Linked DNA regions of Homo sapiens: regions 2 and 3 are each linked to region 1. The links come from fine-mapping of genetic effects on gene expression. A gene starts in region 1. Each other region holds a variant in brackets. All regions are shown on one strand. Distances are between the middles of the regions.

Region 1 (7,910 bases):
CGCTGAGCATAACTTTGTTTTCTTAGGGCTCAGCACAAATGCCCGGTGCTCAATAAATGTTTGTTGAATGATGAATACATGTAATGAATATTAATTTGAAGTAACAGACTCCAAACATCCTCCACTTTACTTCATCAGGTAGAGTAATTTTGGCCCTATAGTAATTTCCTATCTTGCCACCTCATCGAAAAATATGACAGTCCTTGTCTTACCTTCTGAATGGTGCCTTCACTGTAGCCTTTGCTTCTTGATTGTTTCTAATGAGCCCCTCTCAGTAAATAACAATCTACATGTCACACATGCCACGCACCATTTGCCACCTTTCCCCTCAAGGTCTACTTGACGGTGAATCTTAACACACTCTCCTGTGAAGTCTGGACTGTTCAGAATTCATTTCTGGACTAAGAATCCTTTCTAGAAAGGTGCTGTAGTGGAGTTACCATTCAAAGCACAATAATTTACCATTCTGGGCATAGCACTTAAGAGCATACATTTTAATCCATAAAAGCATGGTGGCAGATTCTGGCTCTGCCATTTACTACCTTTATTATTTGGCCTTTTTCAGACTCAGTTACCTCACTGTGAAACTGTAATTGTAATATCTATCACAGAGGGTTAAGGTGAGGCATGAATGAGATAAGGTATGCAAAGCTCTTAGGATAGAGCTAGTGCTTAAGCACTCAATAAATAGTAGTTGTTGCCCAAATGGACCCTTTCATTTTTCCATGCTACTGGCCCAATCTCCTGAAAGGCAGTATAGTCACATTCATACTGCTTTATTTCTTTAACATACTTGTTCTTAAAGCCGAGAGAGGAAGTAAAAAAAAAATAGAATGTCCTCTTTACAGAAAGAAGCTAATCAGATTGTAAACTGGCAGCGCGTGATAATTTTTCATATATTTGTAAAGCTGTGCTAAGCAACAGTCAACAAAATCAGATTCTAAACCAGCAGAGCATGATGAATCTTCATATATTTGCAAAGCTGTGGTAAGCAATAAATAGTCAACAAAATCCTGAGATTTTTGTGCTTTTTAAATAAAATTTTAAATGTAAATTTAACAATATTAAGTACATAATAAGATTAAATCATGTAATAAGAATCACTTCCATTTTTGACAAGCTTCTTAGTTCAGAGCCCTTAGGTACTTCCTGTAATAAAGTCCCATTTTCAGATTCACAGAGAGATATTATCTAATGTTTCACTCTGTCTTTTCATGTTCTTAATTTGGGGTCTGTTTCAATGGCCTGTCTCATATCAGCTGTCATTTTTGTGATCGAAATGTCACTTCACATTACAGTTTTCATTAGGACAGTTCTCATCTTTGGTTTCAATTCAATTTAATTCAAATTAGATCCTTATGTCTCAGGACAATTGAATTCACTTACAATCTTCTCTGTTCAGATAGGATTGTAACCACTACTTCCTGTTGATACTACTGGAGTTGTTGGTACCTTCTAAACCCCTGGTACTGCCTGGGAGCCCACCAGGTCTCATAACAAGGACACTGCTGCTTCTGCCCATGGAAATGGGGCTGGCACCAGCACTGGAACCAGCCAAGCTAGCATTATGCTCAACAGTTATTAAACCACCGTTACTGTCTCCGGTGTTGATGACTGAGTCTCTACCACCTTCCTCTCAACAAAATCCCACTGGGTCAATGCTTTTCTGAATTATGGAAAAATCTTTCTTTTCTCACATTTTGTTTTATACAATTTTTGGCTGAAAAACAGCTCACTAGGTTATAGGAGTTTGGAAAGGTGTAATTTGCTTATTTTGTTTGATTTGGTTGAGATTTTCTAGTCTTCCCCCAACAGAAGCCAGACAAAAGGGGGCTGAACAACAACAGCAAAATTTACTCATGTCTTCTCCTGAGACAACTTTTTCAGAACTGACTTGTATGCTTGACTTTCCCTAGAATAAGTTTGTTTTCAAGAGGCTTTTCTTGCAATATTGCTGGTAGCAATGACCCTATCACGACACCAGATGTATTGAAACTCCTTAATCCTGTCATCTTGTGGGCTTGGTCCCAGCTCACAAGCATTCTAGGACCTTAGTGGCGCTGTCCAGAAGAGGAAAAGATTCAGAGCCCAGAAAACTCACCCAAGTGAAGGGCTGCACCTTAAGAAGGGGGAGACCAGTAGGCTGCACCGCCGTATTTCCAGAGGCTGACCTTGATTCTGGCTAATTACACACACAAGGAAATTCACCAAATGAGCAAAACCCAGCTATGGAGTTCAGGTGGGAGCTGTGCTATGACTTGGCCATTGGCAACAATGCCAATGCTAGTGGTATCCCTGGGTATGGGGACTGGTAAAAAAAATTGGCTAAGGTTGCAGCCTAGCCCTCTAAGCAGGCTTTAGACAGGCCATAAGAAATCAGGTACAGAGGTGGTCCCTAAGGCTGGGTACTTTGGGAGAGCTAAACCCAAAGCATTCTGAAGGAACTGCTTAAATGAAGAGGTAAAATTAGGTCATAATAGGGAAAAATGAGGTTGTGCACAGAACTGTGGGGGCAAACAAGATACATATGCATGTCACTAGCTGGGGGAATCCAGAGAAATGGGATAAGCAGCTAGGAAACCATAAGTGGGATGTGGCACCTGCTGTATGCTACTAGTTTGGACTAGGGTTCTTAAAGGAAGCTCATCTGGCTAGATTTAGGGAGTCTAGAAAGCCAAGGCAGATAAAGTACTTTTAATACATCAGAAATGTAGACTGGACCTACAGAGGGAATTGACATAATTGCTAAAGCTTGGACTTTGAAATTGGAAGTCTTGGGTTTAAATCTCAGCTCTGACACTTAGTCACAGTGTGGCCTTGTGCAAATTAGTGTCTCTACAACGCTGCATCCTCCATTAAAGAACCCCACGGGGTCTTTTAAGAACTTGTAAAGTCCATATCCCAGTGCCTGGCATACAATAAGTACCCAAAAATGAAGGAATATGGGCTGATACCATCACAACTAATTCCAGACCACATTCATTGGTGACACTGAGCCTGTTAACAATTTGCTTTCTCTGATGGGAAGGAACTCAGGAATTGGCAAACTGATATGGGTATGGGTTTCACAGTTGAAAGAGCGGCTAGGGAACCACGGGCCTGATGTAGATGGTGGCTTAGAAAGTAGAGCTATTCGGGGCCAGGCGCGGTGGCTCACGCCTGTAATCCCAGTACTTTGGGAGGCCGAGGCGGGCGGATCACGAGGTCAGGAGATCAAGACCATCATGGCTAACACAGTGAAACCCCGTCTCTACTAAAAATACAAAAAAAAAAAATTAGCCGGGCGTGGTGGCGGGCGCCTGTAGTCCCAGCTACTCAGGAGGCTGAGGCAGGAGAATGGCATGAACCCGGGAGGTGGAGCTTGCAGTGAGTCGAGATTGCGCCACTGCACTCCAGCCTGGGGACAGAGCAAGACTCCATCTCAAAAAAAACGAAAGTAGAGCTATTTGGATGGTGCTCCAGGGTAGCAGCTGATCTGGCAAACTGATATTTGAACCACAATATTAAGACAAATATCATTCAGTCTTTCTTCCTAGACACAGAAACAAAGACCCCTTTCCCAGAGATGTGTGTGTGTGCCCACACACATGCACACACTTCAAAGCCACGGGTCACAATCAAACGTGGTTTCCCTTTGCAGTGAACACACTGGCTTTTAATACTTTCCTTAAGTAAGTTATAGCCTCACATGTGAACTTTTGATCTCTGAAATGAAGTCCATAAATTTCATTGTCAGAATGGTTGCTACTCTTTTATAGTTTACGTGTAAATTTTGTTATTCCTATATCCATAGAAGTCACTTCAGTTTTTTCTCTCTATGGCCACAGTATTACTACATTTAATCTGTGCTGGAAGGTGCCCTGAGTTTAAATTAAGTTGAATGCTGGGCTGAGTGTGAAACACAAGAGATACTGCTAGTCTAAGTCTGGGGCTTCCTTAAGAGAGCCCCTCCTTCACATCTCGGAAACAAGGAATGATGTTGCACCACTCAGACCTCATCTTTCCATCCCAGCTGTATTAGTCCATTTTCACGCTGCTGACAAAGACATATCCGAGAGTGGGAAGAAAAAGAGGTTTAACTGGACTTACAGTTCCACATGGCTGGGGAGGCCTCAGAATCATGGCAGGAGGCAAAAGGCACTTCTTACATGGCAGCAGCAAGAGAAAATGAGGAAGAAGCAAAAGCAGAAACCCCTGATAAACCCATCAGATCTCGTGAGACTTATTCACTATCACAAGAACAGCACGGGGAAGACCGGCCCCCATGATTCAATTACCTCCCCTGCCGGGTCCCTTCCCACAACACGTGGGAAGTCTGGGAGGTACAACTCAAGTTGAGATTTGGGTGGGGGCACAACTAAATCATATCACCAGCCTTACCTCCGACCACTTCATTCCTCACACTACAGTCCAGTCACACCAAATTGTGATGATTCCTTCAATGCACCATGCCCTTTATTGCATTCTGCCTTTGCACAGTCTCTTTCCTCTACCCCAAGTGACCCTTCTTCTTTCCAGAGGGATTCCTCTTCAGCCTAAATGGCTTAGCTCAAGACTCATCAATCAGAATGCTCTCTATAGACCTCCTCAATCCCTTTGAAGTTACTTTCTCCCTTCCCATTGCCCCTGCAGTATTCTATGCAGCTTCTCACATCATAATATCTCCATCTGTGAGCCCTTTGAAAGCAGGGGGAGTGTCCTACTTATGGGCTTAGTATCCCCAGCATCTATTACCATGCCTGGCACTTGTTTGGTGCACATTAAAAATGTATGAATGGGCCAGGCACAGTGACTCACGCCTGTAATCCCACCACTTTGGGAGGCCGAGGCAGGCAGATCACAAGGTCAGGAGTTCGAGCCCAGCCTGGCCAACATGGTGACACCCTGTCTCTACTAAAAATACAAAAATTAGCCAGGTGTGGCGGCGGGCACCTGTAATCCCAGCTACTTGGGAGGCTGAGGCAGGAGAATTGCTTGAACCCAGGAGGCGGAGGTTGCAGTGAGCCAAGATCGCGCCACTGCACTCCAGCCTGGGTGACAGAGCAAGACTCTGTCTCAAAAAAAAAAAAAAAAGAAAAAAAATGTATGAATGAAAGCCAAATTATTTTTTTGTTTTTTCTTCCTGCAGAAACGATGACCATGGGTAAGAGGACTGCTTGTGCCAAGGACAAAATAGGACAACCATCTCACAAAGATCTTAAGTAACTTTTTCCATCCAGCAACATCCAGACGATTTCAGTGACCAAATGCTCAGCTGTAACCACAGCACTAACTGGCCTTCTTTCCAGATTGGGTTTGGTGAACCTGAATGGTCCAGCCACCTTCTGCAGGTGGCCCAAGGTGATGTGCTGCAGGGAAGCATGTCTCTCATGCCAAGAACCAAGATCGGACTATGAACAAAAACAAATGATAGATATAGTGACAGTACCAAGAGTACCAGGACTCAATGTTTCATATGAAGCCCTTGGTGATGAGGACATAGCATCTGCCCTGGAAATCGTTATTCCAACATAATATTATTTTCTAGAATGCCCTGGAAGGACAGAATATTTAAAAATATATCCAGGTGCTAAATAGGCAGCAGATCTCAATTCACACATGACTACCTTTGAGCTAATGACTGTCTCCAGAAAATAACTGTGCCCCAAGAAGTGCTCCAGATTTGCAAGGAATAGCCCCAAGAGAATACCAAGACAAGCAGGCTGTTCCCTGGAAAAAATCTAATGCAAGGAGGGCTAGTTCACAGCAAATTCACTGCCTCCTCCCATGCACGTGGTAGAGAGTACCAGTATCAACATGGCCCTGTTTTCTGCTAAAACCAGATTTTGAGGAATCAGAGACCCCCAACACTACTCACTCAGTAGCTAGCAGCCCCTTCCTTTCAACTGGGAGTGTTATTAGAATGAAAAGTAATTAGTTAGAAGGGCATACATCTCAGTGGCATGAGCATTGTGGAATATCCTTTCCTAGGCACATTCGTCCACTAAGGGAACAGCCTCAGAAACTGGTACAGCAATGGGTGAGATGAGATCATGGAGAGAGAACACAGCCATCCCCTATAGAAAGGCACAGCTTTTGGGCTTCTCTGGCCTGAATGCCTTCTGGGGTATTTCCATATGCAACAGCCCAGAGTCATAGCCTTGGGCAACCACACATAGAGGTTTCCTTCTCACTTCAGACACATACATCACTTTCACACCACTTGGGGATGGAAATACCTACAAGAGTGAAGGTCAAGGGCCCTCCCCAGGCATCTCATTCATTACTCAGCTTCCTTCCTGACCAAGTCTGCCAACCAATGGCCAGCTATGCGCCTCATCCTCATTGCTTCTGCCTCCACGTAAATGAAACCAAAGGCCTCAGCATATCCTGGGAGGACTGGGGGCTGTTACCTAATGGTCCTCTCTGTCCCATTATAGGTGCAAGGCACCCCATCCACACATTTGCACCACTACTCCAAGATAGTATTTTTCTTTTCACACAATCTCTTTACAGCAGAATCCAGAGTTGGATTGTAGTTTACCTTCCTGGAAAGCTCATTATCTCTGTTTGAATTAACATTTCAGCATGGAACTAACTGGGCGGAGGAAGGATCGTTATACGTCTTCAGAAAGTTCTCATTGCCCCAGCTGCCTAGTACTATACAAGAAGCTCTACTTTGATGGCAGATCTAAGAAGGCTATAGGCCTTTGTTTGTAGGAAGCAGTGTCATTACATTCAAGCTTCACTTCTCTGATTGGCTTCCAACCACTGGGATTCAAAGAGAATCCAAGGTTCTGCCTATGTCTGATGACATAAGGAAAACTTGGCTTCCTCTGCTCAAGGTTCCCCTCTGCTCATCCCTCCTCATTCAGACATCCTCCACCATACCAGTGTTTAGAAGCAAAACATGAAGGGCTAGCGCCACCAGGATAGTTAGCAGAAATATTGTCTGTAAAGCTAGGCAGATGAGCCCAGAAGAATGGTCCCAGAGAAAGCAGACTGGCTCCAATAGATATCAGGCAGCAATCCCAATAAATTCTGACATGTCCTTGGCAATGGAAGCCTGGGTTGGAGATCCTGAGGCAGCTGTGCCTACTGTTCCCCACCTCAGAAGCTTCCTGCCCAGAGAGCCAGCAGCCTTGGGATACTAATGAGGATGCAACTGGCTTATTGGTATGAAATAGAAGGTGGCTTTGTAGGGGCAAGCAGGCAAAGAGTACTATCCACATGGCAGGCAGGTGGCTTTGTGTCTGGAAAGCTTTGCCTAGCCAGTACAGCTGTGAGCAGAGGCTGGTTATAAATTTGAACTCCCTCAGCCCATTTGCAACTCTGCCTCTGTTCTCTTGCATTCTGTTTGGTTGCCCTTTAGTTTCCTAGTAAATGCTCCTTTTGAAAAACTCCAACCTTGTCTTATTTAACTTGGGGGAAGGGGATTCTCCAATGTCTTTTCCAGGATAAAGAAGGAAATTAAAATACCATGAAAAAATGGACATGGCAGTAGAAAGGAAACATTCTGATCAGACCTTGGGAAAAGCTGGTGCCGAGAGAGGGAGAGGCCAGGTGTCCCCCCACCCAACTGGCACTGATTCTCAGCCCCTTCCTCTTACTTCTGTTGGCTTCAAGGAGACCTGCCCTTGATGTGTGTTGCTGCTGAAGCACCCTCCCAGCCAGTGAGTTGGACATATGCAGCAGGCACTTTGATGTCCAGGAAGTACACTGGTACATGACAGGAGCAAGGGTCAGGGAGGGGAGGGGAAAGGTTTCTACAATGCAGATGTTTTCAAAATTCTCCAACAATCATGACTCTAAATGGTATGATTTAGGGCTGGGTGCAGTGACTCACACCTGTAATCTCAGCACTTTGGGAGGCCAAGGCGGGAGGATCACTTGATACCAGAAGTTCAAGACCAGTCTGGCAACATGGAGAG
Region 2 (7,910 bases), 31 kb before region 1:
GTACAGCCTGAAGAACTATAAGCCAATTAAACCTCCTTTCTTTATAAATTGCCCAGTCCCAGGTATTTCTTTATAGCAATGCAAGAAAAGCAGTACCAGAAGTGAAGTGGGGTATTGCAATAAAGATACTTGAAAATGTGGGAGCAGCTTTGGAATTGGGTAATGGACAAAGGTTGGAAGAGTTTGGAGGGCTTACAAGAAGACAGAAAGATGAGAGAAAGTTTGGAACTCTCTTAGGGACTGGTTAAATGGTTGTGACCAATATGCTGATAGTAATATGGACAGTGAAGTCCAGACTGATGAGACCTCAGATGGAAATGAGGCTCTTATTGGGAACAAGAGCAAAGGTCATCTTTGTTATGCTTTAGCAAAGAACTCGGTTGTATTGTGTCCATACCTTAGGGATTTGTGGGAGTTTGCACATGAGAGTGATGATCTAGAGTATCTGGCAGAAGAAATTTCTAAGCAGCAAAGCATTCCAGATGTGGCCTGGCTGCTTCTGACAGCCTAAGAAATGACTTAAAGTTGGAACTTATATTTAAACAAGAAGCAGAGTGTAAAAGTTTGGAAAATTTGCAGCCTACCGTGTGGCAGTAAAAGAAAAAGCTTTTCAAGACAGAAATTCAAGCAAGCTGTGGAGGAACCACTTGCTAGAGATATTGGCATAACTAAAAGGGAGCCAGGTGCTAACATCCAAGACAATGGGAAAAAGACCTCAAAGGCATTTCGGAGACCTTGGCAGCAGCCCCTCTCATTACAGGTTCAGAGGCCTAAGAGTGATGAATGGTTTTGTGGGCCAGGACCAGGGCCCCACGGCCCTGTGCAGCCTCAGGACACTGCTCCCCACATCCCTACTGCTCCAGCTCTAGCCATGGCTCAAAGGGGCCCAGGTCCACCTCCAGCTGCTACTTAAGAGAATGCAAGCCATAAGCTTGGGCAGCTTCCATGTGGCATTAAGCCTGCAGGTGCTTAACTGTGGGTACCAGAGTGAAGGTTTAGCAGCTTCTGCCTGGATTTCAGAGGGTGTATGAGAAAGCCTGAGTGCCCAGGAAGAAGCCTGCTGCAGGGGTTGAGCCCTCCCAGAGAACCTCTACTAGGGCAGTGCTAAGGGAAAATGTGGGATTGGAGGTCCCACACAGAGTCCCCACAGGGGCAGTGTCTAAGGGAACTATGAGAAGGGGGCCACCAGCCCCCAGACCTCAGAATGGTAGATCCACTGACAGCTTGCACCCTGTGCCTGGAAAAGCCACAGGTATTCAACCCTAGCTCACGAGAGCATCCCTGGGGGCCAACCCTGCAAAACCATAGGGGCAGAGCTGCCCAAGGCCTTGGGGGCCCACCCTTTGCACCAGTGTGTCCTGGATATGGGACATAGAGTCAAGGATTATTTTGGAGCTTTAAGATTTAACAACAATCGGGCATGGTGGCTCACGCCTGTAATCCCAGCACTTTGGGAGGCCAAGGCAGGTGGATCAGTTGAGGTCAGGAGTTCGAGACCAGCCTGGACAACATGGTGAAACCCTGTCTCTACTAAAAATACAAAAATTAGCTGGGCATGGTGGCAGGTGCCTTCAATCCCAGCTACTCGGGAGGCTGAGGCAGGAGAATAGCTTGAACGTGGGAGGCAGAGGCTGCAGTGAGCTGAGATTGTGCCATTGCACTCCACCCTGGGCAACAAGAGTGAGACTCCATCTCAAAAAAAAAAAAAAAAAAAAAAAAAAAAAAAAAAAATATATATACATATATATATATATATATATATATATATATATATATATATATATATTTAATGACTGCCCTGCAGGGTTTAAAACTTGCATGGAGCCTCTAGCCCCTTTCTTTTGGTCAATTTCTCCCTTTTGGAGTGGGAATGTTTATCCAATGCTTGTACCTCTATTGTATCTTAGAAGTAAATGACTTGATTTTTTATATTACAGGCTCATGGGTAGAAGGCACTTACCTTGTCTCAGATGAGACTTTGGACTTTGAACTTCTGAATTAATGCTGGAATGACCTAAGACTTTGGGGGATTATTGGGAACACATGGTTGTATTTTGCAATATGGGAAGAACATGAGATTTGGGAGGGGCTGGGGTGGAATTATATAGTTTAAATATTTGTCCCTGCCCAAATCTCATGTTGAATTGTGAACCCTAATGTTGGAGGCAGGACCTGGTGAGAAGTGTTTGGATAATATCCCTCATGGCTTGGTGCTACCCTCATGCTAGTGAGGGAGTTCTTGCAAGATCTGGTTTAAAGTGTGTGGCACCTCCACCCCCCTTGCTCCTGCTCTGCCATTTGCCACACTGGCTCCCTATTTGCCTTCTGCCATAAGTAAAAGCTTCCTGAGACCTCCCCAGAAGCCAAGCAGATGTCAGTGCCATGCTTCCTGTATAGCCTGCAGAACTGTGAACCAATTAATCTGCTTTTCTTTATAAATTATCCAGTCTTGGATATTTCTTTATACCAATGCAAGAATGGACTAATACACCAATCAAGAAAGTAAATACCATCCAAAGGGATTAAGATTGACTATAAATTTTAAAATATGAACATTCTGAATTTTTCTTCCTGTTATTAATGCTTAATGAAGTCCTGGAAATGGGAACGGAGAAGTGGATCCAAATACATCCACATCTGCGTGTGCTTTTTGCTGGGGCTTTATCTGCATTCTCTCTCTGCTATGGTCTGAGTGCTTGCATCCTCCCAAAATTCATATGTTGAAACCTAATCCCCAATGTGCTGGTATTAAGAGATGGGAAACAATTAGGTTATGAGGGCTCTGCCTTCATGAATGGGATTAGTGCCCTTATAAAAGAGGCCCAAGGAAACTTGTTTGCCCCTTCTACCATACGAGGACACAGAATGATGGCCCCATCCATGAGGCAGAGAGCTAGCACTCACCAGACA[C/G]CAAATCAGCTAGCACCTTATCTTGGACTTTCCAGCCTCAAGGACTGTGAGCAATAAATTTCTGTCATTTATAAATTATCCAATCTAAGATATTTTGTTATAGTAGCCCAAAAGGACTAAGACATCCCCCTTAATGACTGGAGTCAGAATCACATCAAAAAATAAGGCTGAGTTGGAGCCAGCAACATTTATTCACAAGAGAAAGACAGGAATTGGACTGGCTGCAGAGAGGCCCACAGAGTCAGAGACCATCCACCTCAGCTACAGCACAGGGCTCAGCACTGTATTTCTGGTGTTAGTGCTATTCTCAATTCTGTCCCTAGTTCCTGCTACTGAGGAACTCCATACACAGCAGGACAGTCTTCTGCTGTGCCATGAATTCAAACACAATCTGTAAAGACAGTGAAGGAAGCTACGTCTGTGCTTAGGTGCTTTAGAGAATTATCGGCTTGCAGTAATAAGAGAAATGTCTGGGCTGGGTAGTCCTCAAAGACTCCCATGTGGTTCAAGATAACAAAATATAAAGGCTGAGCATCTCGTGCTCCCAACCTAGTTCTAAGGCGTCTATGGAGGGATAGTGAGTGGGGCTCTCTATGGCAGTGATTGCCTCTAATGAAGGAACCAAAAGCCAGGCAGGGATTAGGGTGGGCTTCTGGTTTTAGAAAACATGATGGTAGAGCTCTTCATAGGAAGTTTTTAAGATCAAGGTAGGATCCTGCTTGGAGGATCGTAGCCTGGCAGTCTGGATCAGCCTGGTGGTGGAGGTGAAGGGTGTGGAAGCTGGACTCACTTTGGCACACAAAGTTCAGGAATGAGTTGACAACCAAGGCCCCGTGGCTATGGAAGATCGTATCACATGACCCCAAAGTATGGCAGGGCAGCCAGCGGAGCAGTTCTACCTCTCTACCTTGGGCCTGCAGGGTGACATCAACATTGATAACATTGAAGGCATGATGTTGTCAATATTTATTATAAGCACACTTATAATCTTAAATTTGCACTTTATCCTAGCCTCCGTGGTGCCTATTGTATTTATGGGTGAGTAGTTGGAGGTGACAGAATATAATCTTTCAGTTGCATTTAAAGTTTTATGTTTCTTAAAGTTACAGAAAGTTCGTTCCCAGGACTGGGGCTAATGGCTCTTCTCCTGCTCCTTACAGATAATGTGGCACTTCCATTGCCTAGTATGGAACCAATATATCACATGAATGTGCACTTACCTAGAACTAGTCTTATATCAGGAATGAGGATCCAGGGATCCTTGCAAAGAAAGAAATAATAATTCAGAGAAACCCTACACTCTCAGGATAAGAAGGGGGAAAATCAAGGTTCCCGCCATCAACCAAATGGTTTGAGTCCAGGCAGAATCTAAACCATCACTCACAGTGCGCCATCTGCTCCAGCACCAGCCCTCCTGATTCTTTTGCAGGTCAGCAGGCATGAAAGAGTTAATAGCAAAGGCCATGAGAAACTTGCTCGCTGTTATAGAGAAATCACTTTTAGTTCCAGTTGCTGCTGCCAGAGGAGATGCTTGAGAGCAAGATAGGAAATAATAAGGAAGAAAAGGACTTTTGAATCACATGAGAGTCTTCGAGGACTACTCAGCCCAGATGTTCCTCTTATTGCTTCAAGCCAATAATTCTCTAAAGCCCCCATGCACAGATGTAGCTTCCTTCACTGTCTTTACAGATTGTGTTTGAATTCATGGCAGACCAGGAGACTGTCCTGCTGAGTATGGACTTCCTCAGTAGCAGGAACTAGGGACAGAATTAAGAATAATATAACATATATGAAATAACTGTATTCCATAACTGGAAATACAGTGCTGAGCCCTGTGCTATAGCTGAGGTGGATAGTCTCTGCACTTTAAAAGAGAGTCTTTGAGCAACTGCAGACAAAGACTGATATAACTTCTTGATTAGAAAATCAGCTGAAAGGCCGGGCGCAGTGGCTCACGCCTGTAATCCCAGCACTTTGGGAGGCTGCGGGGAGTGGATCACTTGAGGTCAGGAGTTCAAGATCAGCCCGACTAACATAGTGAAACCCTGTTTGTACTAAAAATACAAAAATTAGCTGGGCATGGTGGTGCATGTCTGTAATCCCAGCTACTTGGGAAGCTGAGGCAGGAGAATTGCATGAACCCAGGAGGCAGAGGTTGCAGTGAGCCGAGACTGTGCCATTGCACTCCAGCCTGGGCAACAGAGCCAGACTTCATCTAGAAAAAGAAAAAAAAAAATCAGCTGAAAAGACCAGAAGAGAACTCCATGAGACAGGGAATAATGGTGAGCCAGGACTATTATAGGAGAAACAGATCTGGGCCAGATTCAGGACTTCACCCATTCCAATTTTAGAGAGGAGGGCTTGGAATTTAAGGACTGAGCCCTTCCACCATCACTATCCACTCCATGCTAAGAGAACATTAGGTGGCCTCTGTTTTTAAGGCTCTGTGCTGCTGAGCAGGACATGCTTGCTATTGAGGTGGGTAGGATAGTAGGTTACCTATAAGGTTCCTTCCAGGCAGTAAAGAAACTGAAGAAAGAGCAGGTTAGGAAAAGGGAGAGAAGTGTTGGTGCAGCAGCCAGCCACAGGGAAAGGAATTTGGTGGCCTTGGAGGGAGGGAAAGTGGGGACAGTATCTTCAGTAGGATTAACATGGATTTGCATTTGAATTGTAAAATGAGAAGTTGCTTAGTCGGATCTCAGACTGAGGGTCCATGGTGCTCCTATATGTTTCTAGATTATTTGTAATATGCTGTTTATATGCATGTATATGTACAAATGTAAGAGCTCTTAGCAAACTTAAGCATACACACAAAGACTTAAATTACTTGTTTAATACAGTGGTGTCCAGTTGGTTTTTTTGTTTGTTTGTTTGTTTGTTTTTGGCCAAATTCTTTGATGAAGTCAAATCTAATTTGAAAGTTGAAGGTCTAAAACAGATAAATGCAAGAGCTACTGTGATCGAAGCAGACAAATTGAGGAGAGCAAAATCATTTAATCAAAGAGGAAGACGTGACCCAGCTCAACTTCCTGGTGGACGACCTCAGCTGTGCTGTTGTTACTAGTGTCTAACAGGAAGAGGAACCTAATTACAGCTCAGCCACTTCGAGCTGCTGAGCTTGAGCAAATTATCTCATCTCTCTGAGGATTCATTTCCTCTTCTGTAAAATGGGGATATCAGTAGCTAGTTTTAGATAACTGTGTGAGGATGATTAAATGATACAACATACCTGAAAGCACCTAGCATAATATCTGGTGAAAGCAGTGAAAGACGCTGGACAAGTGTTTGTTTCCTTTCTGCAGCCAATTAAGATTCTGGGAAACTGTAACTCTACCCAGGCTTTCCAGTAGCTTATTTTTTATTGTTCTATTGTAGTGCTTAAATAAGGATAACTTTTCCAGAGATAGCCTAAGTTTCTCATTTCTCTGGCTCTTGGAATTTCCAGTGCTTCACAAAGACTTTAGTGTTAAGAATGTAAGGTGTAGCACAGTATTTCAATAAGTCCCCAGTTCTACATGGAAGGGAGCAGTGTGCCACAAATGTTCTTGGCATTGATTCACATTTAGATATACATTTCAGTCATGACATGGACATAGATATAAAACTGAAACAAAAGTTTCACGAAATTAATAAACATAACGTGATGCACTTTTTAATTTTTTTTCATTAAAAATAGACTACTGGTCACAATCATTAAATTAATTTCACAAACCCATAATGGGCCACTGCCCATTATGGATTCAATAAACACTGTGTGATATGCACTTTGAAAACGACCACTGTATTTGGATCCAGTGTGGGAGTGATAAGAAGGAATATGGACTCATCACCAACTGCCCATATTTTTAGGACCCTCTAGAGTGATTTTTTTTTTTTCTGAAAAGCCAGAATTCTAAGATTGTCATCACATATTTTCACCGGAAATTAATGTCATTCCTTGGTTTTAGCTTCTCTGCATAGAACACTACATGCCTGAGTTTGTGTTGCCACATTTGCATGGGCACAAATAAGTTATTTTTACCACAAATATTTAACCTTCCAGTTTGAAGCTGTGCTGTGCTTAGCCTAAACAGCATAGAGAGACCAACTGTGTTTATAATTAAAGAAAAATGCTGTGCAAAGCCACAGAAGGAAGGAAGAGGCAATTCTTGTTGGAGGTATGTGTCACTGCTTTCAAGGGGTTCCCTGAGGTGCTTGACTCCACACGGACTCTTTCATTCCTGCTAGGTTGCGAATACTACACCAAGTGCTGTGGACAGAGAGATGTAGATGAAGCACCGGCCTGTAAAGAGTCTGGTGGGGGAGTCTGACAGGAAATTGTTCCAGTGTAATAGTGTCAATCATATAATTGGTGGTTTCAAATTTTGTATAGATGGGAGAGTTGTCAGCCTTCCACAGGGGAGAGGGTGGTGACCAGAGACACATGCTGACCCCACTTGAGCAGGCTCTTGGAAATACGGAAATCCTTCCCAATAGGAAAGGAAAGGTTGAAGATACAAGAGAGGGAGGGGATAACTGCTGTGCGGGCTTTGACCTGGAGATACGTGGCCCAGCTCTTCTCACAGAGCACACAGGATGCTCTGCCCTCCTATAACAGGCACATCAGGGCCCCATCTCATCTTTGTGGCATATGGAAGCAAATGTTACTCCATGGGCAGGATTCAGAGGCAGCCATGTGCTGCTCTTAGTACAAGGGCAGAGGACCCAGCATTAATGCAGTGCTTTCTATCACCTTTCCCAACTACCAGAACTTTGGCCCACCCATCTGCCTCCTCTCTCCCAGGTCTCTTGGTGCCCAGGTTTTCTCTGCATACTTGCTGCACTCTCTGGTGTCCTGGAAGCAGCTCTGCCCTCTTCCAACCTGGCTCAGCCTTGAAAGGGCCCCTTTTTTCACATTGGTGCAGGTAGGTCTTTTGCCACCATCCAAGCCTTGTTCCTATTCTTCTATCAACTTCCATCAGCTTGTATGGAACAACACATCCCCTCCCCAGTGCTCTGCT
Region 3 (7,910 bases), 21 kb after region 1:
ACTTGAAGAATTCACTAGTTACAAAGGGGAGAGACCTTTCAGGCTGAGGAAACTGCATAAGCAAAGATACCACATGTTAAATTTCATGGGGAGCTTGGAGACAATTAGATGTGGCTGTTGTGGAGGATGAATGTGGTAGATGCCAATTGTTGAAGGAAGAAAGGTTGACCGAGGTTATACGGTAAAAAGCTTTCATTTTGGCATAAAATCAGCCAACACTTTATCTAAAGAGATGAAGATAGGGAATTAGAGGCTGTTCCAATCACTCATGCAGGAAACAATGCAATTAACTTGGTAAAAGGTTGGAAGATTTGAAGATGACTTACAGCAAATAACTATCAGGAAGGGGGAAGCAGGAGAGGTATGACAAGCAAAAGATAAAGGGAAAAATAGAGGCAAAGAGAAAAAAAAACAGAAGGAGGAGGCATCCTGTTCATATCTAAATGACGAATTCCAATATCCCAGAAGGGATTCTGTTGACTGGGGTTCTGCATCCTCAAAAAGGCAAAGTCTCCTCCAGACTTTGCTGGAGTTGACTAGCATCTCTCAGCAAAGTGAGGGAGTACTGGAAGCAGAGAAGGCTCTAGATATCAGAAGGTCGGTTAACGTGGAGGCACAGCAGCAAATGGAGCCAAGAGGGATGAAGGCAGCAAAAATTTCCAAAAGGAACTGGAGATCTGGATGTGATCAGCTTCAGGGGGCTAACTGGGATGAGAGAATTGATATATCCGGCTCCTTCTCATTTAGAGAAAACAGTCAGCTCAGGCCTGGCTTATAGATTAAGGACCAGTCACCTGGATCCAACCACACAGAGGAAATAGTGGTGGATATAAAGGAGCTTATTTCCCCTCTCAGGATACCGGGGTAGAAAAGCGGAAGGATCAGACACTTGCAGAGGAGAAAAGAGAAGTCACTGTGCTTGTCCACTGTCCTGGCTAGTAATAGCAACGGTCAAGGCCAGAGGTTACGTGTAATGAAGACAGTGGAGCTAACTGATTTCGTCCAGCTGCAGGTCTAGGTGCGGCAGGCCATCTTTTTCACCCTTATCCACCCGGCACCCACTGAGGAGGGACTGTTCTAATAAAGATGGCTTCAGTAGGCCACTGCGAGTCAAGGCTGGGTCTGTCTCCAAAGTGAGTTTGGTTTTTCTTTATGAAACCTCTGGTCACGAGAATATGAGAGTTTCCACTCTGGTTCTGAACTATGGGTCATCAATCCTAATGGGTTATGGGTTCCAGCTGTGAGATTTGCTGTCCCTGTTTGGGATTACAAAAAGTAAATGAAGCTCTCCAGTTAAGACCAGGTGTGGGCAGTCAGAGCTGAGAGGCCAGGAGTGTCCCTCTGAAGAAGGTGGTGACCGCAGAGAAAGTGGTGCTGGGCCTGAATCACTGGTGGGCAGAGATGGTGCCTGCCAGTCCTGAGCCAACCTCTTTGGAGCCCACTCCACAGAGATAAGAGCAACAGCAGCCCTGAAAGCACCTCAAGGACTTCTGCTGCAACCGAGGCTTCCCACTGCATTTCCCCCTTACAGACTCTCCAGTAATTCTTTAGACTCTGTAAGTATGGCATGTGTATTTCATTGAAAAAGTAATGTAAGCATGCTCTAGAAAACCCAGGAAAGAACTACCCACACCACCACCACCGAAAAGTTAATTAGATACAATCAGAGTTTTCCTCCACTGGACCTTATCCATCTTAGTTCACAGTCTCAGAGTTAGGACTTGAGGCATTTGTGGAAGTAAATCAACTAGAGCACCCTTAAGACTTTATTCAAAAATGCTAGGCATGAGTAATTTCAGAGAGAATATTCTCACTTGGAGAAGCAGCGTGAGCCAGACAGAATTTTTAATAAGGATTTAGGAGGCAGGGTCAGCTGAAGTTCAACTGGTTTAGGGAATAGTGCAAAGATGGTTCTAAGAAATATGAGGAATTGTTTCTAAGGATGATGAACTACTGTTTGGGATTTTTACCGAGAGGGTGAGGAGGAATAGTTAGGAGCTGTGGCCATATGGAAGAAGGGTGGGGAGAAATATTACCGGGCATAAGGAAGTTTAAGGACCACCAGTGGAAAATTCTCAGTCTATGTGTCTCTTTTAAAAAAATTTTGTGGATACATAGTAGGTGTTTATGGGGTACGTGAAATGTTTTGATAAAGGTATCTATTAGCGTCTCTTGTGAGGACCAAATGGAAACACAGGCCTTCTGACTCCTGGAGAGCATTCTTTTCACATTCCATAGATGCCCCAGCCTTTCTCAGTTTGGCAGGTGATTGAGAAAGAACCCCAAGGCGTCCTGGCCTTTCCCATGGAAAGGCAGGTTGAGATAAGAAGAGGGCTGGACTGCACAGACAAATTCAAAGATTTTACCACCTTGTCCTAGGGTTATAATTTATCTTCAATTGGACCAGGGCCTGCAGGAGTTTAGTCCTACATATTTCTGGCCTGCAGCTACATGAAGGGAATTCTGCCTCCAGTGATTGAGAAAACTCAAGGATTTCCTTACAAAGGCGTTTCACTTTTTGATGGCTTGACCCTGGAAGCATCACTGTATCAATGATTGTTGTTGTTCCTCTTAATCAAATTATTCTCAGCTCCATCCTGAGATGTTTCAGCTGACAGCCTGGATGGCCAGGCCTGTAGCCCATTGTACCTTTCTGCCCAAGGGGCGATGTAGCCCTGTGCACTGGCTGTTCAGAGATAGTGGTAGATCCATGTTTATTTTTCCTGGCTGTGCCTTTAAGAGCTGCAGGAATGTGAAGGGAGTCTGGATGAGGGGTGGGGTCTCCCAATAGGACTTCTGGAAAAGGATCCTGGGAATTTTTGCCAGAAACTAAACTGAGAGTCCAACTTTAAAAAGTTGGGGGTGGTTTGTGTTGGGGAAGGCCTGCGATTGGACTGCAGAATCCACTAGGGAGGAGGAAAGCAAAAGTAAAAAGGAAATAGCTGGGGGAAGGGAACGGGGGGAAGCCATCTTCACCCCCCACCCCAATGCACACACAATTAAGCCAGGAAGCAGCTTGCAACCACTAGCCTGGGGAGGGTCCGCATGTGTCAAGGGTGAGGGCAACAGATGCTGGACCCAGGGAGCTCTCTGCCACAGGTCAGTCTACAAGGCCTCAGGGACCAACTTGCCAACAGCTGGACTTGATCACTAGCTGGCAAACTGAGCTCACGTATCGGGTGGAATAACAAGCGGACTTTGCTCTCTGCTGTGCAAAACGCTGTTTTTAGAGGATTTGCCACAGCAGCGGATAGAGCAGGAGAGCACCACCGGAGCCCTTGAGACATCCTTGAGAAGAGCCACAGCATAAGAGACTGCCCTGCTTGGTGTTTTGCAGGATGATGGTGGCCCTTCGAGGAGCTTCTGCATTGCTGGTTCTGTTCCTTGCAGCTTTTCTGCCCCCGCCGCAGTGTACCCAGGACCCAGCCATGGTGCATTACATCTACCAGCGCTTTCGAGTCTTGGAGGTAGGTGGCATCTGTACACCTTGGATAAGTAACAGGCTTCCCAGAAGTACCTTATTTTTACCCATGCTTCTCTATCTACTGGGTTGTATTTTTCCCAGATAGCAAATGACACATTGCCAAAGTTACACTTTAAAATGCTCATAGTCTGGCAGTTTAGAGCCGAACTCCAGAGTCCAGTGTGCTACTTCCAGACCTTAAGCACAGTTGCACTTTGTGCTCTGATTTGGCAGTTTGTCTCATCTGTAAAATGGGGATAATAGTAGAATTTATGTTGTAAGGCTATCCTGAAGATTTAATCCATAGCTAAAATACTGCCTGGCATAATGGTATGTATCTAAAATGTTATTATTCACCATAGTTCATTTTTTAAAATATGAAACTTAAAAATGTTGGTTACTTTTTCTTCATGTTTTAGTGTTTCAGGCTGATAATGGATTTCAGCTTTTCGTTTTGTCTTTTATGATAAACCATTAGGTCACTGTAAAAAGTCATGATATCAATGTACTGAGAAGTCTTAGTTTCTTTTGCTGAACTGGATTTAGACTTAGAA[G/A]TGAGCAGATTTCAGCCAAGTTAAACAGAAAGAATGCATTTGGGCTGCCACCTCATTAAAATGTGCAAAACCCAACATTTTGGCAGCCTGGACAGGCTCCCAGGGACAAATGTAACCCTCCACCCTAGCCTTTGCCACACCCTGGCATTGATTATTCATACTTAATGGCTTGCTTTTGTACAAGCTAAATTGATAAATTATTTATCTTCTTTCAAAGACCCTCTTATTGCTAATAATTATTTTATACATTTTCCTGAAAAATCTTCATGTCCAAATTATATGTTCTTCTAGTTATAGTCAGGGTAAAGTAATTCCACATAGCAGGCCGAATGCATTTCCTAAGGGCGTCCAGCCAACAGGCTGGGGCCTGGAGGCAGTGGATGAAGTGTTCCCAGACGAGCGGCCTCTTGCGCTTCTTCACTTGCTCCCTCCTGAGCCTCACCTCCTTAGAAGTGCCAGAATGATGCTCAGTCAGGATCCCTCTGCATTTAGCACCGACTTGCCTTGGGAGTAAAGCCAGCCAAATCCCTGCAAATTGTCTTTCACTACCTTAAGAACTTGTCAAGGGTATGAAGTACAGACTGATCCTTTTATAGCTATGAATGTGGATTTGAAAAAGACAAGGATATGATCTGTATAGATCTTCCCACCCCAGTCCTGACCTGAGGTGAAGCCAAGTCGCAGGTGGCAGTCACTGTTGGCCAGCGCAGACACTTAACAATACAGTGATAGCATTCCCAGCCTGAGAAGCCAGTGTCGGAGGGGTAGGAAAAAAGAGGGTAGGGATTTAGGGAATTATTTTGGGTCTCTCTTTCTGTCTTTCTCCCTTCAAAATAAACAGCCTTACGTATTGTTGTTTGGAGCATACATTTTTACATTTGTGGATAGAATTTTGATAAACCATGCCAAATGAGCTTTAAGTAGACATTCTCTTTGACCAAGCAATCCCATTTCCATTCATTTATTCTTTTGTTCAGCAAATATTTATTGAATAGTATTATGTGCTTGGCCCTGTGCCAAGTGCTAGGGACGGATATTCTGGAAATCTACCTTAAAATAATCTGATGAAGATGTAAATACAAAGGTTTTTTTTTCCCTTAATAATCTGATGAAGATGTAAATAAAAAGTTTTTTTCTCAGCATTGTTTGAATGACAAAAAATTAAAAACTATGTAAATGTACCTCAAAAAGAGTCTAACAGAATAAATAATGGGATATCAATTAAATGGAATGCTCTCATTAAAGTTATGGTATAGGTATACTTTAATTAGTATCAAAGTATGTTCACAATATATCTGCAAGTGAAAAAGATGATACAAAACATATAGTAAAATCACATTTTAAAAATATATATTTACATATGTATGACTAAATGCTTGGGAAAACTTTTAAAAACTGATATACTCAAGTATCAATACTACCTTTGAATTTAGGAATTATGGGAGATTTCAATTTTTCCCCTATTTGATGATGTGTAATTTTCTAATCCTTTTCTATAAATGATAGGTATTTATATTATTTGGGTAATTTAAATAACAAGCAATAATTTGCAAATTTATTTTCTGACTGAAGCAAGGGCTGGAAAAATGTACCCAAGCAACGAGGGCATACATTCAAGAATTCCAAGAGTTCTCAAAAAATATATCTGTCATGCTGGGAAGATGTCAGACCTACACAAGTGAGTACAAGAGTGCAGTGGGTAACTTGGCACTGAGAGTTGAACGTGCCCAACGGGAGATTGACTACATACAATACCTTCGAGAGGCTGACGAGTGCATCGAATCAGAGGACAAGACACTGGCAGAAATGTTGCTCCAAGAAGCTGAAGAAGAGAAAAAGATCCGGACTCTGCTGAATGCAAGTAAGAAAACTGCATCTTTTCCTAGCCCTTCTAGGGACTATTATGCTCAGAAACACACAGACTCAGAGCAGTCAGGGAGCATCATAGAGTAATGAGAGTAAGAATTGGAGGTGTGCTTTTGTGTGCATTGCTGAGAGAGAAAGCTATACAGAGAACAGGTGTCCAAAGAGAAATCCATTCTCGCAAAGCCATTCTTTCTTTCACACACAGTGCCTAAAGCCTCCATAGATGGTGAAGGCTATAGTGCCAAAAGTCAGCCCAAAGAGACTACCTCCTGATAAATCTTGGTTTGGTGGAGATGTGTGGTCCCAGATTTTTTCAGGGAAAGTAGCAGTTTGGTGGATTCTACATCCAGTACCCAGGCTGTAGATAGCATCTGCAAATGTACCAAGAAACAGTCTTAAATTGGAAATGGCAACAGCCAACCCTCAGGGATGGGAACTGCAGTGAATCACTATTGTGTGTGCTGTCTGAGATGGTGATATGCATGGGATGTGGTCTAATCTTGTGATCCATCAGAATCACTTCCAAGCCATTAAGAATAATGTGTAGCAGCTCAAATTATAATAAACAGTATCAGGCAATAAACACACAAATGACAAAGAAAAATTTTCTGTGCCCGAGTCTATTTCATTAAAACAATGAGGGAGACAAATCTCCCACTTCAGGGTTTGTATTCTGAGATGTTTTCATTGCAAATAGGAAGACTTTATTTACATGCTAATTACGTCTGTTCCAATTCAAGAACCTCCATCAGGGAAATGACATATAAGCTGAGTGCCATCATTGTGCTAAAAGTTTCACATACCTTCTCAATGTAATCCTTCTAAGAACTTCATGGTCACTATAAGGAAAAGGGTCTTCCTAAATGAGGTGACACTTGGTCTCAGTTTTGAACAAAGAAGTTAGAAACGAATGAGTAGAGGGTACTTCAAGTCAGGGCACAATATACCAAAGGCATGAGGGTACTGTAGCACCTTGACATGTAGACCCGCAAATATGGCTGAGTGAAAGCTTTTTAGAGAGGTGACAGTAGGGAAACTAGGTTGAAGAGCTCAGCAGGACCCAGTTAATGAGAGACCTTGCATGCTAGATGAAGGAAGTTGAAGCTCACTGGAGAAACTATAGAGAACCATTGAGCAATTTTAAACAAGGGCATGATACGAAGGAAGAGGCTAAGACTAGAGAGAGGAGACCAGTCAGGGAATGCTGCAATGATTTGGGCAACAAGTAATAGTGTTGGCATTAAGTGTCATGGGACAGAGAACAGGTGGATTTGAGAGCCATTGAGAATTGGAATCCACATGGCTTTCTGACTGCTAATTAAAACTAAATGATGAGTGAGAGAGATGAGTCCAGGATGTTTCCCAGGTTTTGGGCTTAGGTCATCGAATGGTTGGTATGAAATATGCTGAGATGGAAAACTCAAAAGGAGTTTGGGAGCACTTATTACTCTATAATTTTTTTCAGACCATTTATAATTTTGAAACCATTTAGTTCATTTATTGGCTCATAGGTTATTTCCTACCTCCCTATCTGTAATGTCAGCTCTATGAGAGCTTGGAACCCCAGTTTCATGTTCAATGCTGTGTCTCCAGTGCCTAGAATGGGGTCTATTCAATAAATAGTTTTCAGTGAGTAATTAAACAATTAAAACAAATAAATGAGTAGATGTAGGGATTGTCAACACAGGCAGAGGGGTTAGTTAGGCTTTGGTGGGGGGGGGGGCGGGGAACCAAAAAACATCTTATCCCTGAGTCAGAAGAAAGAGAGGAGGGTGCCCTGCCTATAATATGAAGCAATGGGTCAAGTAAGCAATCCTTTTTGGCCCTGACATTGTCCTGAGATGAATCATCCTCAAAGAGGGAGAAGCTGGCGGTAAGCACAGAGTGAGGGAAGGAAATGGGTCAAAAGAGGATGAACAGGGGCTTCCTAAAAAGCTGATGGAGAGGACTGGGTGCTAATGTGGCCTGAGCTAGAATGTGTCCGAACTCTCACACTGGGGGTTCAGGCAGGACGCTAAGTCTGAATA

Evidence for each region. PIP is the estimated chance that this variant, and not a neighbour inherited with it, causes the effect.
Region 2: its variant is fine-mapped to the expression of SYT9-AS1 in tibial nerve (GTEx, PIP 0.94).
Region 3: its variant is fine-mapped to the expression of SYT9-AS1 in subcutaneous fat (FUSION, PIP 0.95).

Annotation. Positions count from the first base shown.
Region 1 is chr11:7,461,664-7,469,573 of GRCh38, forward strand. It overlaps SYT9-AS1 (SYT9 antisense RNA 1), which reads right to left and starts at 4,172. Exons shown (of 5, transcript NR_103855.1): 1 at 4,090-4,172. It overlaps SYT9 (synaptotagmin 9), which reads left to right. Exons shown (of 7, transcript NM_175733.4): 7 at 5,129-7,380. The coding sequence ends at 5,137. RefSeq lists an enhancer at 6,259-6,318.
Region 2 is chr11:7,430,853-7,438,762 of GRCh38, forward strand. All of the region lies in intron 6 of SYT9 (synaptotagmin 9), which reads left to right. SYT9-AS1 (SYT9 antisense RNA 1) reads right to left here. Exons shown (of 5, transcript NR_103855.1): 5 at 6,775-7,910. Among named protein-coding and RNA genes, the nearest start is that of SYT9-AS1, 31 kb to the right of the region's middle. RefSeq lists an enhancer at 5,832-5,881. The variant C/G (reference allele first, on the strand shown) is at 2,911.
Region 3 is chr11:7,482,538-7,490,447 of GRCh38, forward strand. OLFML1 (olfactomedin like 1) reads left to right here and starts at 2,969. Exons shown (of 3, transcript NM_198474.4): 1 at 2,969-3,467; 2 at 5,590-5,878. The coding sequence starts at 3,339. RefSeq lists an enhancer at 2,646-3,150. The variant G/A (reference allele first, on the strand shown) is at 4,018.